4 separate regions of the Homo sapiens genome follow, and regions 2, 3 and 4 are each reported to be linked to region 1. The links are microRNA targets in miRTarBase. Many come from high-throughput screens and were not tested one by one. Region 1 holds a microRNA gene; each other region holds the end of a gene's coding sequence.
Evidence for each region. The annotated mature microRNA hsa-miR-4465 reads CUCAAGUAGUCUGACCAGGGGA and lies in region 1 at 903-924, opposite strand. An mRNA with a match to its seed (bases 2 to 7 or 8) in the 3' UTR can be bound and repressed. Matches are read on the target gene's strand: a 7mer-m8 pairs with bases 2 to 8, a 7mer-A1 pairs with bases 2 to 7 and ends in A, and an 8mer does both.

Region 1 (3,272 bases):
GTAATGATGATACTAAATATATAATAAAGGACTTCATACTCCAAAATTTTTTTGCCTTTTATGAATATGATTGAATTGATTGGATCTTCAAAATAATTCCCTGATAGTTAAAATTTTGAGTTTTTTAAAGGCAAAAATAAAGGCAACGATAACTACTATAATTTAAATAAGGGTCAAAATAAGAATGACAAAAGTGAGAAAGTATTGCTTCATAGTTTTAATTTCATTGGTAATTGTATTTTTTTATAAAAATTATAATCTATGGCATATTAAATTAATGTTGTTAATTTGAATTTTAGTGATTTGGTAGGAAGCTTTAGTATTTTATTTGAAAATGAAATTTAATAGATTTCAGAGCTATAAGTAAAATAAGTTTATATCTTATTTTACATAAAAATTTTATTTTATACAATTATATCAAAACATATATAAGTTTTGTTGGTATGTTTTTAGCTGATATTATAAAAATTGATACTTAGAATTAAAGTGTACTTATCATTAATTATTTTTTAGCTGAAAATGGTCCATAGATTAAGGAAGTTGAAAAAACACTGGGAGAGTCCTCATTATGGTTGCTTTAAATGTAGACCGACATTTGCTCTTTTGTGTTTCCTGCTGTTTCTTTTTTTTTTCATAATTAGTAGCAATAAAATGCCATAAATATTTTTAACAATGTGTATGTTCATTTCAGGGTTAAAAGAGAAAAGTAGAGTAAATAATACTTCCTTCTTTTTTGCAAGAGGTTTAAGGGGACCTATTTAGTGGCACAGGTAGTATCCATAGAAGCGAAATAAGCAAGTTATATGCTATTGAAACTAAAAACAAACCAAACAAGAGATACATGCCCCACTTGTGACGGAAATATGCTTGTGGGAATGCAATCAATGAAAAGCTCTCATGTGTCCCCTGGTCAGACTACTTGAGGTTCCATAGTAAACCTCAAATAGCGTGCCAGGGGACACATGAGAGCTTGGGCTAGACCAGAGCAGGGCTGTCTAAGAAACGAACTTGACAAATTCAACTGTAACATCCTTTGTAGGCAGCACTACCAACCGTGGTACCTCCTGGACATCTCTCCAGCATAAGGAGCAAGGCAAGCCCTCTTTTCTCAAGGCTTTTATTCTCTCAGCCACGCCTTCACCCCCATTCCCTTCCCAACCCCACACACATAGAACAAAACTTAAAAGAACAAAAATTGCATCCTCTTCTAGAAATGGTAAAACTAGAGAATTTTTTCTGGATGCAGTTTGTTAAATTCAACATATTTTGCTAGATAACGATTTTACCTCTTTAATTAACACAGATAAATGATCTATTACTATTGCTTTCTTCTAGGCTTGTGCCATATGTGTAATATTAGACACTATATCTAATAACAATAAAATGTCGGAAGGGTTGCATGTTTGTCTTGCTATTAGAGATTTTGTCTAATATTACATACATATATATGTGTGTATGTAATTATATATAGAGAGAATATATATTTATATAGATAACATATATCTATAGAGATATATAGAGAACATATATCTCTATATCTATAGAGATATGTAGAGAACATATATCTCTATATCGATAGAGATATGTAGAGAACATATATCTCTATATCGATAGAGATATGTAGAGAACATATATCTCTATATCGATAGAGATATGTAGAGAACATATATCTCTATATCGATAGAGATATGTAGAGAACATATATCTCTATATCGATAGAGATATGTAGAGAACATATATCTCTATATCGATAGAGATATGTAGAGAACATATATCTCTATATCGATAGAGATATGTAGAGAACATATATCTCTATATCGATAGAGATATGTAGAGAACATATATCTCTATATCGATAGAGATATGTAGAGAACATATATCTCTATATCGATAGAGATATGTAGAGAACATATATCTCTATATCGATAGAGATATGTAGAGAACATATATCTCTATATCGATAGAGATATGTAGAGAACATATAGCTCTATATCGATAGAGATATGTAGAGAACATATAGCTCTATATCGATAGAGATATGTAGAGAACATATAGCTCTATATCGATAGAGATATGTAGAGAACATATAGCTCTATATCGATAGAGATATGTAGAGAACATATAGCTCTATATCGATAGAGATATGTAGAGAACATATAGCTCTATATCGATAGAGATATGTAGAGAACATATAGCTCTATATCGATAGAGATATGTAGAGAACATATAGCTCTATATCTATAGAGATATGTAGAGAACATATAGCTCTATATCTATAGAGATATGTAGAGAACATATAGCTCTATATCTATAGAGATATGTAGAGAACATATAGCTCTATATCTATAGAGATATGTAGAGAACATATAGCTCTATATCTATAGAGATATGTAGAGAACATATAGCTCTATATCTATAGAGATATGTAGAGAACATATAGCTCTATATCTATAGAGATATGTAGAGAACATATATCTCTATATCTATAGAGATATGTAGAGAACATATATCTCTATATCTATAGAGATATGTAGAGAACATATATCTCTATATCTATAGAGATATGTAGAGAACATATATCTCTATATCTATAGAGATATGTAGAGAACATATATCTCTATATCTATAGAGATATGTAGAGAACATATATCTCTATATCTATAGAGATATGTAGAGAACATATATCTCTATATCTATAGAGATATGTAGAGAACATATATCTCTATATCTATAGAGATATGTAGAGAACATATATCTCTATAGATATAGAGATATGTAGAGAACATATATCTCTATAGATATAGAGATATGTAGAGAACATATATCTCTATAGATATAGAGATATGTAGAGAACATATATCTCTATAGATATAGAGATATGTAGAGAACATATATCTCTATAGATATAGAGTTATGTAGAGAACATATATCTCTATAGATATAGAGATATGTAGAGAACATATATCTCTATAGATATAGAGATATGTAGAGAACATATATCTCTACAGATATAGAGAGATATATAGAGAACATATATCTCTACAGATATAGAGAGATATATAGAGAACATATATCTCTACAGATATAGAGAGATATATAGAGAACATATATCTCTACAGATATAGAGAGATATATAGAGAACATATATCTCTACAGATATAGAGAGATATATAGAGAATATATATCTCTACAGATATAGAGAGATATATAGAGAATATATATCTCTACAGATATAGAGAGATATAGAGAATATATATCTCTACAGATATAGA
Region 2 (3,272 bases), not on the chromosome of region 1:
AGGGAACCCAGAGGGAAGAGACTCACCCATGCTGAACACCTACTGTGTGCCTGGTGTTGTGCTGAGTGCCTACTGTATGCCTGGTGCTGTGCTGAGCACTTTGTACAAGCCCCCTAATCCTTATAAAAGCAACCCGATTAGGTGGCAGCCATTATCCCCATTTTGCAGATGAGGAAGCTGAAGCTCAGAGAGGCTAACTGACTTGCTCAAGGCTCACAGCTAGTTGATGGCCCAGACTGGCATTTGCATCTAGGCTTGTCTGTCCCGAAAGCTGATGTCCTTCCTGCTGTCGCTCAAAATACACCTCCCTTTTCCTTTCCCTTCCAACACCTCAAATAGCACAACCCCCTGTCCAGCACAGACCCAGGGAAGACCCCTCCCAGAACCCTGGCCTGCTGGCCTGGCTCCTCAGCCCCCGCTAACGCTGTGCCTACCTCCCTTCTTGCCTGTCTCAAGGCAGCACTGTACGCAGCACCCTATAAGTCTGACTTCCTGAAAGCGCTCTCCAAGGGGCAGAATGTTACGGAGGAGGAGTGCCTGGAGAAGATCCGCCTCTTCCTAGTCAACTACACGGCGACCATCGATGTCATCTACGAGATGTACACCCAGATGAACGCTGAGCTTAACTACAAGGTGTAGGCATGCCCACTGCTGGACACGTCCCCGACTCGTGGCCACATGGAGAAACAGGCAAACCAGAATCACTGTGAATCAAGTCGGTGAACTGCCCCTGGCCTGTGTCCCCCAGAGCAGCCCAGGGTCCTGCCAGAGTCTGCAGGGGACAGCCCTCGTTTTTTAAGTCTTTTTTTTTTTTTTTTTTGGTCTATTCTAAAGGACCAGTAAATAATGATCTTACTTCCAAATCTCCTTGGAATTTCACGACAGCACAGACTGACTTTATACCTTCATTTCAGCGTGGTAAAAACCGATTAACACTTCTAATGAGTCAAGTCCTAGGGTTTTTTGGTTTTGTTTTGTTGCCAACGAGGAACACAGCTCTGGGGGAATGGTGTCATCCACCTCGCTTTAAAAATAAGCACATGATGGCTGGGCACCGTGGCTCACGCCTGTAATCCCAGCACTTTGGGAGGCTGAGGCGGGTGGATCACCTGAGGTCGGGAGTTTGAGACCAGCCTGGCCAACATGGTGAAACCCCATCGCTACTAAAAATATAAAAAATTAGCTGGGCATGGTGGCGCACGCCTGTAGTTCCAGCTACTCAGGAGGCTGAGGCAGGAGAATCGCTTGAACCCGGGAGGTGGAGGTTGCAGTGAGCTGAGATCGCACCATTGCACTCCAGCCTGGGCAACAAGAGCGAAACTCTGTCTCAAAAAAAAAAAAAAGAGGTGGGTGGATTACTTGAGGTCAGGGTTTGAGATCAGCCTGACCAACATGGTGAAACCCTATCTCTACTAAAAATATAGAATTAGCCAGGCATGGTAGCGCACGCCTGTAATCCCATCTTCTTGGGAGGCTGAGGCAGGAGAATCGCTAGAAACTGGGAGGTGGAGGTTACAGTAGCCGAGATCGCGCCACTGCATTCCAGCCTGGGCAACAAAAGCGAAACTCTGTCTCAAAAAAGAAAAAAAAGAAAAAAAAGCACGTGACCTTATGAGGCTCTCGCTGTATTGTTATTTTAAGGACTATAAAGAGTTTGATTTAAAATTATGCAGGGCCCCTATGTGGGATTTTTTAAAAAGCAAACTGGTGTGTATTCTCATGTGGTTTGCACAGCCCAGCCTCACAGCACTATTGTAAACCCTGCTCTTTCTGTCTCGCTAGACAGATTTTTTTGTTTGTTTTCTTTTTTCTGGTTGTTTTTTGTTGTTGTTGTTGTTGTTTTACAGCTGAAACCAACCAGCAAGCCCTTGATGACCAAGAGGCGTTTCTTTCAAAGCTATAGGGCACAAACAATTGACCATAGATGACTCCGTTTGCATTCTTCTGCAGAATTATTTCCTTCAGGGACAGATTTTCCAACCTAAGAAACTACCTACCGTGTGTATTCTCTTGACGGGGAGAGATGAACCCTTCAGCTGCTAAGATCCAAGAAAACGCCTCACTGCCTTAACCTTAACTGTTCTTCCTGGCGCTAAAAAGAGCTGTATTTTTTAAAGTGCTGGGGCAAACAAAGCAACCCCAAAAGAGTTGATGTGTGTTTTAAAAGAAAAAACCCAATGAGGAACAATTGGAGATTTTTATGCAGAAACTAAATAATCCTTAATAAATAAATCTCTATTTTGGAATCACATCTGTGCACTGTATTGGTTCTTGATTTTTTTTTCTTTCCTGCATCAGAAATTACAACTGGGGACCCTTACAAATCCTACCAAGAATGTATTTTCTGGCGTCCATGGTTTTAAAATTTTATTTATCTATTATTTTTAAATGTTTTTGTAGAGATTGGGGTCTTGCTATGTTGCCCAGGCTGGTCTCAATCTCCTGGCCTCAAGCAATCCTCTTGCCTCAGCCTCCCAAAGGGTTGGGATTACAGGCATGAGCCACTGCACCAGGCCTGGCCTCCGTGGTCTTAAAAAACAGAACTGGTTGCTGCATGGAGAAACGGGAATTTCACATAAGAATCTTGGGTTTCGGCAGGGTGCAGTGGCTCACTTCTGTAATCCCAGCATTTTGGGAGGCCGAGGTGGGTGGATCACTTGATGTCAGGAGTTCGAGACCAGCCTGGCCAACATGGTAAAACCCCATCTCTACTAAAAATACAAAAATTAGCCAGGTGTGGTGGCGGGTGCCTGTAAACCCAGCTACTTCAGAGGCTGAGGCAGGAGAATTGCTTGGAACCAGGAGGCAGAGCTTGCAGTGAGCCAAGATCGCACCATTGCACTCCAGCCTGGCTGATAAGAGCGAGACTCCATCTCAAAAAAAAAAAAAAAAAAAAAAAAAAAAAAAAAAAATCTTGGGTTTCTGTAGCCATAAAAAAGAATGAGTTCATGTCCTTTGCAGGGACATGGATAAAGCTGGAAGCCATCATTCTCAGCAAACTAACACAGGAACAGAAAACCAAACACTGCATGTTGTCACTCATAAGTGGGAGTTGAACAACGAGAACACATGGACACAGGAAGGGGAACAACACACACTGGGGCCTGTCAGGGGTGGTGGGTAAGGGGAAGGAGAGCATTAGGACAAATACCTAATGCATACAGGGCTTAAAACCTAGATGACGGGTTGATAGGTGCAGCAAACTACCATGGCACGTGTATACCTATGTAACGTATAATTAAGAAAAGAACCTTGGGTTTCTAGCTTCTTTT
Region 3 (3,000 bases), not on the chromosome of region 1:
GGAGGCCAAGGCAGGCAAAAAAAAAACAAAAACAGACTAGCTGGGAGTACTGTTTCTCTTTTTTTAAGCATACAGTCCTGGTGGAGAAATATCTGCATGAACTCAAAATATTAATCATGATTGTCTCTGGGTGGTGGGATTATCAGTTATACAAATCATTTATACAATTTTTTTCCTAAGCTGTTACCAAGGAAGTAAAATCTGATGAGGTAAATGTGGCATTCGTATCCTTAACCTTTACCATCTCTTCTAGAATGATTCCAGCTTCCTCAGTACACTTCATGAAGTCTACTTGCAGGTTCTGACCAAGAACAAAGACAACCACAACCTATGACTGGAGCAGAATAAGTCTAAAGGCAGAGCCCCAGCCTCAGAGACAAATAGGCTTCATCATGGAAACTTCTGAGCAGAACATTGAGTTTGAGAATCCTGAAATTGAGCCTATGAGAAAGAGACTCATTTCTTAAGAATGTTTTCCAAGTGACATTCTCAGTGATAATGGAGGTTTCACTGTGAAGCATCACCAGCAGATCCTTGTTTTGACAAAAAAAAAAAAAAAAAAAAAAAAAAAGAGAGCGATCATTGTGTTAAGTTATGTGGGTGTTTTCATCAGCTAGGAGCAAGGCTGTGGAATAAGGAGTCAGATTCTCAGCTTGCTTTCACTTTCAAGGACTTACAGAGGAGTAGTCACCAGCCTCACAGCAGAAGTTCAGCCCGGCCCCCACCGCTTCCCCCAGCCTACCCCATAGAAACGGGCTTTGGGCTGACAAGTCAAGTTTTGAACAGAGTAGAAGGCAGCTCTGCAAAGTAGCTTCTAGTTTTTAGGACCAGAATTTAAGCCGGCAAATTAGGAATTATTTCCTCAAGTGAAGTATATTTTATATGAATGCCCCATTTGGGCCTTAAAAGTTGTGAAATTTCTTAATAGCATTTTGTTTTTAAGTGCCCCAGTCCTGCCCTGCAGCAGGCCCCCAGTGCAGCATTACCATTTGAATAGGGCACTGTCAGGCTCTGGTGGTGTGGACACAGGCATGTCATACCTTTGAAGGAAAGGCTGGGGCTGGGAATGCCCACATCCTATCAAATCTTCATTTTAGGTTAAACTCTCCATTGGTTCTGAAAATGCTAAGTTTGTGTGTGAAGCACAGCCTTATTTTCCTTTTCTGTCATTGTTGATTGTTTTCCTTAACACTTTGACAAAAGGACCAGTGGACCAATCTGACAAAGCCATTCTGGTTCCTTTCCTTGAGTGTACTGAGAATAGTTTTAAAGCTATGCAGAAAAGGGAGCTGTTATTCACACTGCCCTTATTTTGTTGTAGAATTATGGAGTTAAAAGAAAATGTGATTCCGAACTCTACCAATGTATTCCTAGGCTGTGAGTACTTTCCCGGCCCAAAGTGTGAAAATATGTAAAGAAGCTTTGTTATGCTGCTATTGATCTGCCATGATTTCTATTTATTCTTTTATGGCATGTAATGGTGTTTAGTAATATTTTAATGTAGATTTTGATTTATTTCAGCAATAGTAATTTTAAGATATTCTTTGAATGAAAGTGTCTTCGTTTCTATGATACAGGTCATTTTGTAGTATTTAACCAATTAAGATGCACTGCTTACTTTTCTGAGCACTATTTAATGATGGGGTAAAAACCCAATTGGCTCAACCAGCTAGCATAAGGATTAGCTGTGAATAATGCTGACAGATATGATGGTTCCTTAGGAACAATCATTTAAGCTTTAATGGTAACTCAATCATAAGTCCATAGATTATTTTTTTCTAGCTAAAATTTTAGAAAATTACTTGTGAATTACATACTTGTTTTAGTTTGGTCTTAGTTTTTAGCATAAAGAATGATTGGCTTTTGTTGATCTAAACATGCTTCCTGGACAGGGTTTCTGCTTCTCATTTTAGTGTCTTCTATTGCTGTCTACCTAATTATGTGTGAATTGTGCAGAATTCAGGGAAGCTTATAAGTTTTCATGCTCAATTGTGAATAGTTTGTTTTCACAGATAGTATGTAAATTAAGCAACCAAAAATGAATTCCTTATGCATCATCTGGGAACGAGAAAGCTATAGTGGGATACAGAGTGTTGCTGACACCGGGAGATGGTGTCCAGGGAGCCACGTGACTTCCATAAAGTGGACGCACCAGTAGGTGTGATTGCACCTCAAGTGTAGTCTCAGTGGGCTTCGGTGAACAGACGAATCAAGGGATTCTTGAATCGAAATTATGCTTTTGAGTATGTAATATTATGAGAGAGTTAAGAGAGAATATCCTAAAGAGAGTCTGTGATCATACTAATTTTCACCTTTAATGCTAGGAATGGATATGATAGACAGTAAAGAGCATCTATGATAAGGCTTCCTTAGTGTGAAAGTAAACTTAAGTGCCCAAGTCATGGAGACTTGAAAAGGGTAAACCTGTTTCACCTCCCAAATTTATATATTCAAAGTATTTACTTAAAATTCAGAAGCCAGAAGTTCATGTCATGATTACCAGGAAGTTCAGGCCAGAATGAATCCCTAGAGAAGCCAGGCCAAGCCTGGATAATTGCAGCTGGATGACCCTGGCCCGAAAGTCACAGTTCAGTTGCCTTATTCCTAGTTCAGGCTTACTATCTAGAACCTCATGCTAGCTTAGGTTGCATGTTTACATTGCTGCAGTGTCTTTACTGGAAGCTTAGTTGGATCGAAATGGACACCGAGATGGAGATGCTTCTGGCTAGATTTCGCAGAACCCCAGGAGACCTGCATTTAGACCACTCTGTCCATTTGTGTGCCCACCCCCACCCCCAGGGTCTAAGTGTAGACTCCAAGAGGAGCAGCCCAGAGCTTGGAGGAGAGGTGTGTCTGGGGCACCACTGGTGGGTGGTGCTGCTCTTCTTTTTGTTGTAGTTAATGCGGTGTCTTTTAATGGACTCTCAGGCCTCCCAGACAGCCTTGTTCCTTTAAGGCAGAAGCTCTTCTTCATTGTGTACCTCCTGGGATTCATGAGGT
Region 4 (3,000 bases), not on the chromosome of region 1:
ACCATTGTCCTCAGCACTCCCCGCCTCCCTCACTCTGCTTTTTCCCCACAGCATTTGCAACCATCTGCTCTGTATTCCCTCCCCTGTGCCTCTTACCCAGCAGATGTCAGCACATGTGGACGCCACACAGCAGGGACTCTGCTCTTTCGTTCAGTTCACTGACATATCCCCAGGACCTAAACAGTGCTTGACATATAGTAGATACCCAGTAAATATGTGGTGAGTGAAATAATTTTTCATAGAAAGTCTGGAAGGACATATACTAGTATTTTAAAATCCCCTCTGGGGTTATGAACATGGATGATGAATGTATTCTTTTTGCATAGCTGTATTTTATAATTTTCTTTATAATGATGTGTTTATGTCATGCCAATTGTATAAACATGATCTTATATATTTGTGATTTTTTTTCTCCCTCCCAGATAGGAGCATGCTGCTATGTGGAATGTTCAGCTTTAACCCAGAAGGGATTGAAGACTGTTTTTGATGAGGCTATCATAGCCATTTTAACTCCAAAGAAACACACTGTAAAAAAAAGAATAGGATCAAGATGTATAAACTGTTGTTTAATTACGTGAGAAACATCTTCAGTGGCCAAGGAAACTGTCCATTTCTCTCAGAAAGCAAATGAAATGCTACAGCTATACCCAGACCTTTTATAGGTAATGAAGCAGTTCAAAACTTGAAAGAAAACAAAACCTGTCCTCAGAATTCTATAAAGTGTATTAAGAATGTTCCTTAAAGGTTTAAGAAGCAGTAAGCAGCATCTGAAGCCACAATCTATTATAAATACTTTATTTCAACTAGAAGGTACAATCTCTCAGGGGTTTCATAGTTTAAAAAGCTACAATCACATCATGTTGTAACTACGTAAAAAACAGAGCTGTAAATGGAACTGCTTGGCTTTGACCATACACATTTCTGCCCAGCCCTTACAGAATCTGCACAAAGAAATATCTCCCTTTGCTCCAGTTAATTGTTCTTGTATGTAAGTTGCTTTCTATTCCAGTATATCCAGAGTGGTGAAATAACAAGGCCAGCCACGTAGCCAAAGGTCGCTCCAAGCGTACAGGAGATGGGCCATACCTGAGGAGAGAATGTATGAGATCAAAAAAGAACAAATGTTTTATTATTACTTGAGCACAAGTGTAACCTAAATATTTCTATATTAAAGCTTAATGTGCTTTCTTAAAGAATGCCAAAAGTGTAATAAGGTCATAACTGCATTTATCATGAACACTAAAAATGTACACATTTTAGTTAATGTGCATTAAACTGTAACAAGGCTTCTGGCAATTGTAGATTTAGTTTGACGCTCCCCAAAGTGCATGAGACACATGCTAAAATTACAAATTAAAATTTTGGGTCAGACTTTGCCATAATGATAGACTCAATTTAGCTCTCTGAACTAGTTGGTAATTTTTTTTTTTTAATTCCCACTTTGGCTGTGTACATCAAATGAAATGAGAAGTGTGTATGCTGACCAAACCACAAGAAACTTTCTTTAAGTTGTGTTAAAGAGGAAAGACCTAGAATCCAAGCGTGTTACATGAAAATTGTAACAGAGCAGCTGCTTCCACCTTTCAGATATAGATGTTGGAACCACAGCAGAAGTTATAGAGCGACAACTTATATACACACCTAGAATGTAAGTTAAACAAAATACCGGCTTCCAGAGACCCCTTTTCTCCAGCCATATTACATCAGGCTAGAAGTAATTAATGTTGATTTATTTCATCTACAAGCAGTTGGTCCCTAAGTGAAAGGCTCTGCTTGAAAAAAAAAAGAAAAAAAAGTTGGAGGAAAATTTTCATGTTCTTCTGTGAAGCTTATTTGGTACACTGGAGCCATTTCTAATCTTTCTCTGGGGGGAACAGGCCACAGAACTGTGTTAGAGGTGAACCATCTTAATTACTAGTTCTATTACCTAATTCAGCTTCCTTGTTTGGTCTGCTGTGGATCTGCCTTATTGCATATGCCATGCATCAGATAATGGATGCATCAGATAATGGTGTTAGACAAAGCTTCATTGTGAACAACCTAATGCATTTTAGAGAAACAATCTCATCACATTTTTTCTAGCCTTTCCTACATTTAAACTTGCTGTTGCCCAAATTATAATTTTTTAAATGTCTTTGGTGGGCTTCTGTTAATTCACATGACTTGAGCTTATAGCTATGTCTACTGCACAGATTGGGTAATGGAACACTAAACTTTTATACTTGAAAATGACAGCCTTAAATGCTCATATCAGTCACAAATCTAGGATGTACTGTCTTGTTGTATGTGAGCTTTGTAGAGATTTTTAAAAATATAAGCATCACCTTCCCATTGAAGAGTGGAGAGAGTCTACTGGATGACTGGCCAGGAACTTTCTCTCTGAATCGGACATTTGGATGTCTTCTTTCTTCCAAGAAATGGTGGTTCACATTAAAGTATCATGGCCTTATGTATGCTCAAATGGAATCTTATGTAACTTTCTTATTTAATTTTGGTCTGCTTATTTTTAGATAAAATTGAAAGGAATTGTATAAATCAATTAACATATTAGCTGAGTTGTCCAACACATGGTATAAACGAATTACAACAGTAAACTATTACACATTTCCAACTTGCCTTTGGGGATTTATGAGGATTTTTTTTGGTGGGGGGAGGGGGCTCCAATTCATATCTCTGAAACCCTTCACACTTGGTTTACTAATTCAAAGTTAGAAGTCTAGAATTTGCCCTGCCCTAACAGAAACAGATTAGGAATTTGTCTACACAAACTGGTGTCACCTGTTTCTTGACTGGGATTTGGTTTCCTCATTATAAATATGGGAGGTAGAACAGAGATCTCCAACGTCTCTCCCATTTATCACAGTAATTTTCTTATTCACAGTAATCATTGTTGGATGTTACCTTTTCAGCTTCACATTCTCAAGATGGTAAAAATCATGTATATAGATTATCAGAACTCTAAGCAAAGATGACTGTCACATCTGAAGCTGAGGTGCCTTA

Region 2: the mRNA of GLTP is a reported target of hsa-miR-4465. Seed matches in the 3' UTR shown: 7mer-m8 at 1,357-1,363.
Region 3: the mRNA of DCP1A is a reported target of hsa-miR-4465. Seed matches in the 3' UTR shown: 7mer-A1 at 2,408-2,414.
Region 4: the mRNA of RHOQ is a reported target of hsa-miR-4465. Seed matches in the 3' UTR shown: 7mer-A1 at 681-687, 7mer-m8 at 1,134-1,140 and 8mer at 2,220-2,227.

What each region holds. Positions count from the first base shown.
Region 1 is chr6:140,681,507-140,684,778 of GRCh38, reverse strand. It overlaps MIR4465 (microRNA 4465), which reads right to left and starts at 965; the gene lies at 896-965. All of the region lies in intron 4 of LOC105378027 (a long non-coding RNA gene), which reads right to left.
Region 2 is chr12:109,849,922-109,853,193 of GRCh38, reverse strand. It overlaps GLTP (glycolipid transfer protein), which reads left to right. Exons shown (of 5, transcript NM_016433.4): 5 at 457-2,249. The coding sequence ends at 639. Among named protein-coding and RNA genes, the nearest start is that of TRPV4, 18 kb to the right of the region's middle.
Region 3 is chr3:53,284,914-53,287,913 of GRCh38, reverse strand. It overlaps DCP1A (decapping mRNA 1A), which reads left to right. Exons shown (of 10, transcript NM_018403.7): 10 at 254-3,000. The coding sequence ends at 334. The region is part of intron 1 of LOC107986087 (a long non-coding RNA gene); the gene reads right to left. Among named protein-coding and RNA genes, the nearest start is that of TKT, 30 kb to the right of the region's middle.
Region 4 is chr2:46,580,506-46,583,505 of GRCh38, forward strand. It overlaps RHOQ (ras homolog family member Q), which reads left to right. Exons shown (of 5, transcript NM_012249.4): 5 at 423-3,000. The coding sequence ends at 578. PIGF (phosphatidylinositol glycan anchor biosynthesis class F) reads right to left here. Exons shown (of 6, transcript NM_002643.4): 6 at 432-1,086. The coding sequence ends at 973. Among named protein-coding and RNA genes, the nearest start is that of RHOQ-AS1, 1.8 kb to the left of the region's middle.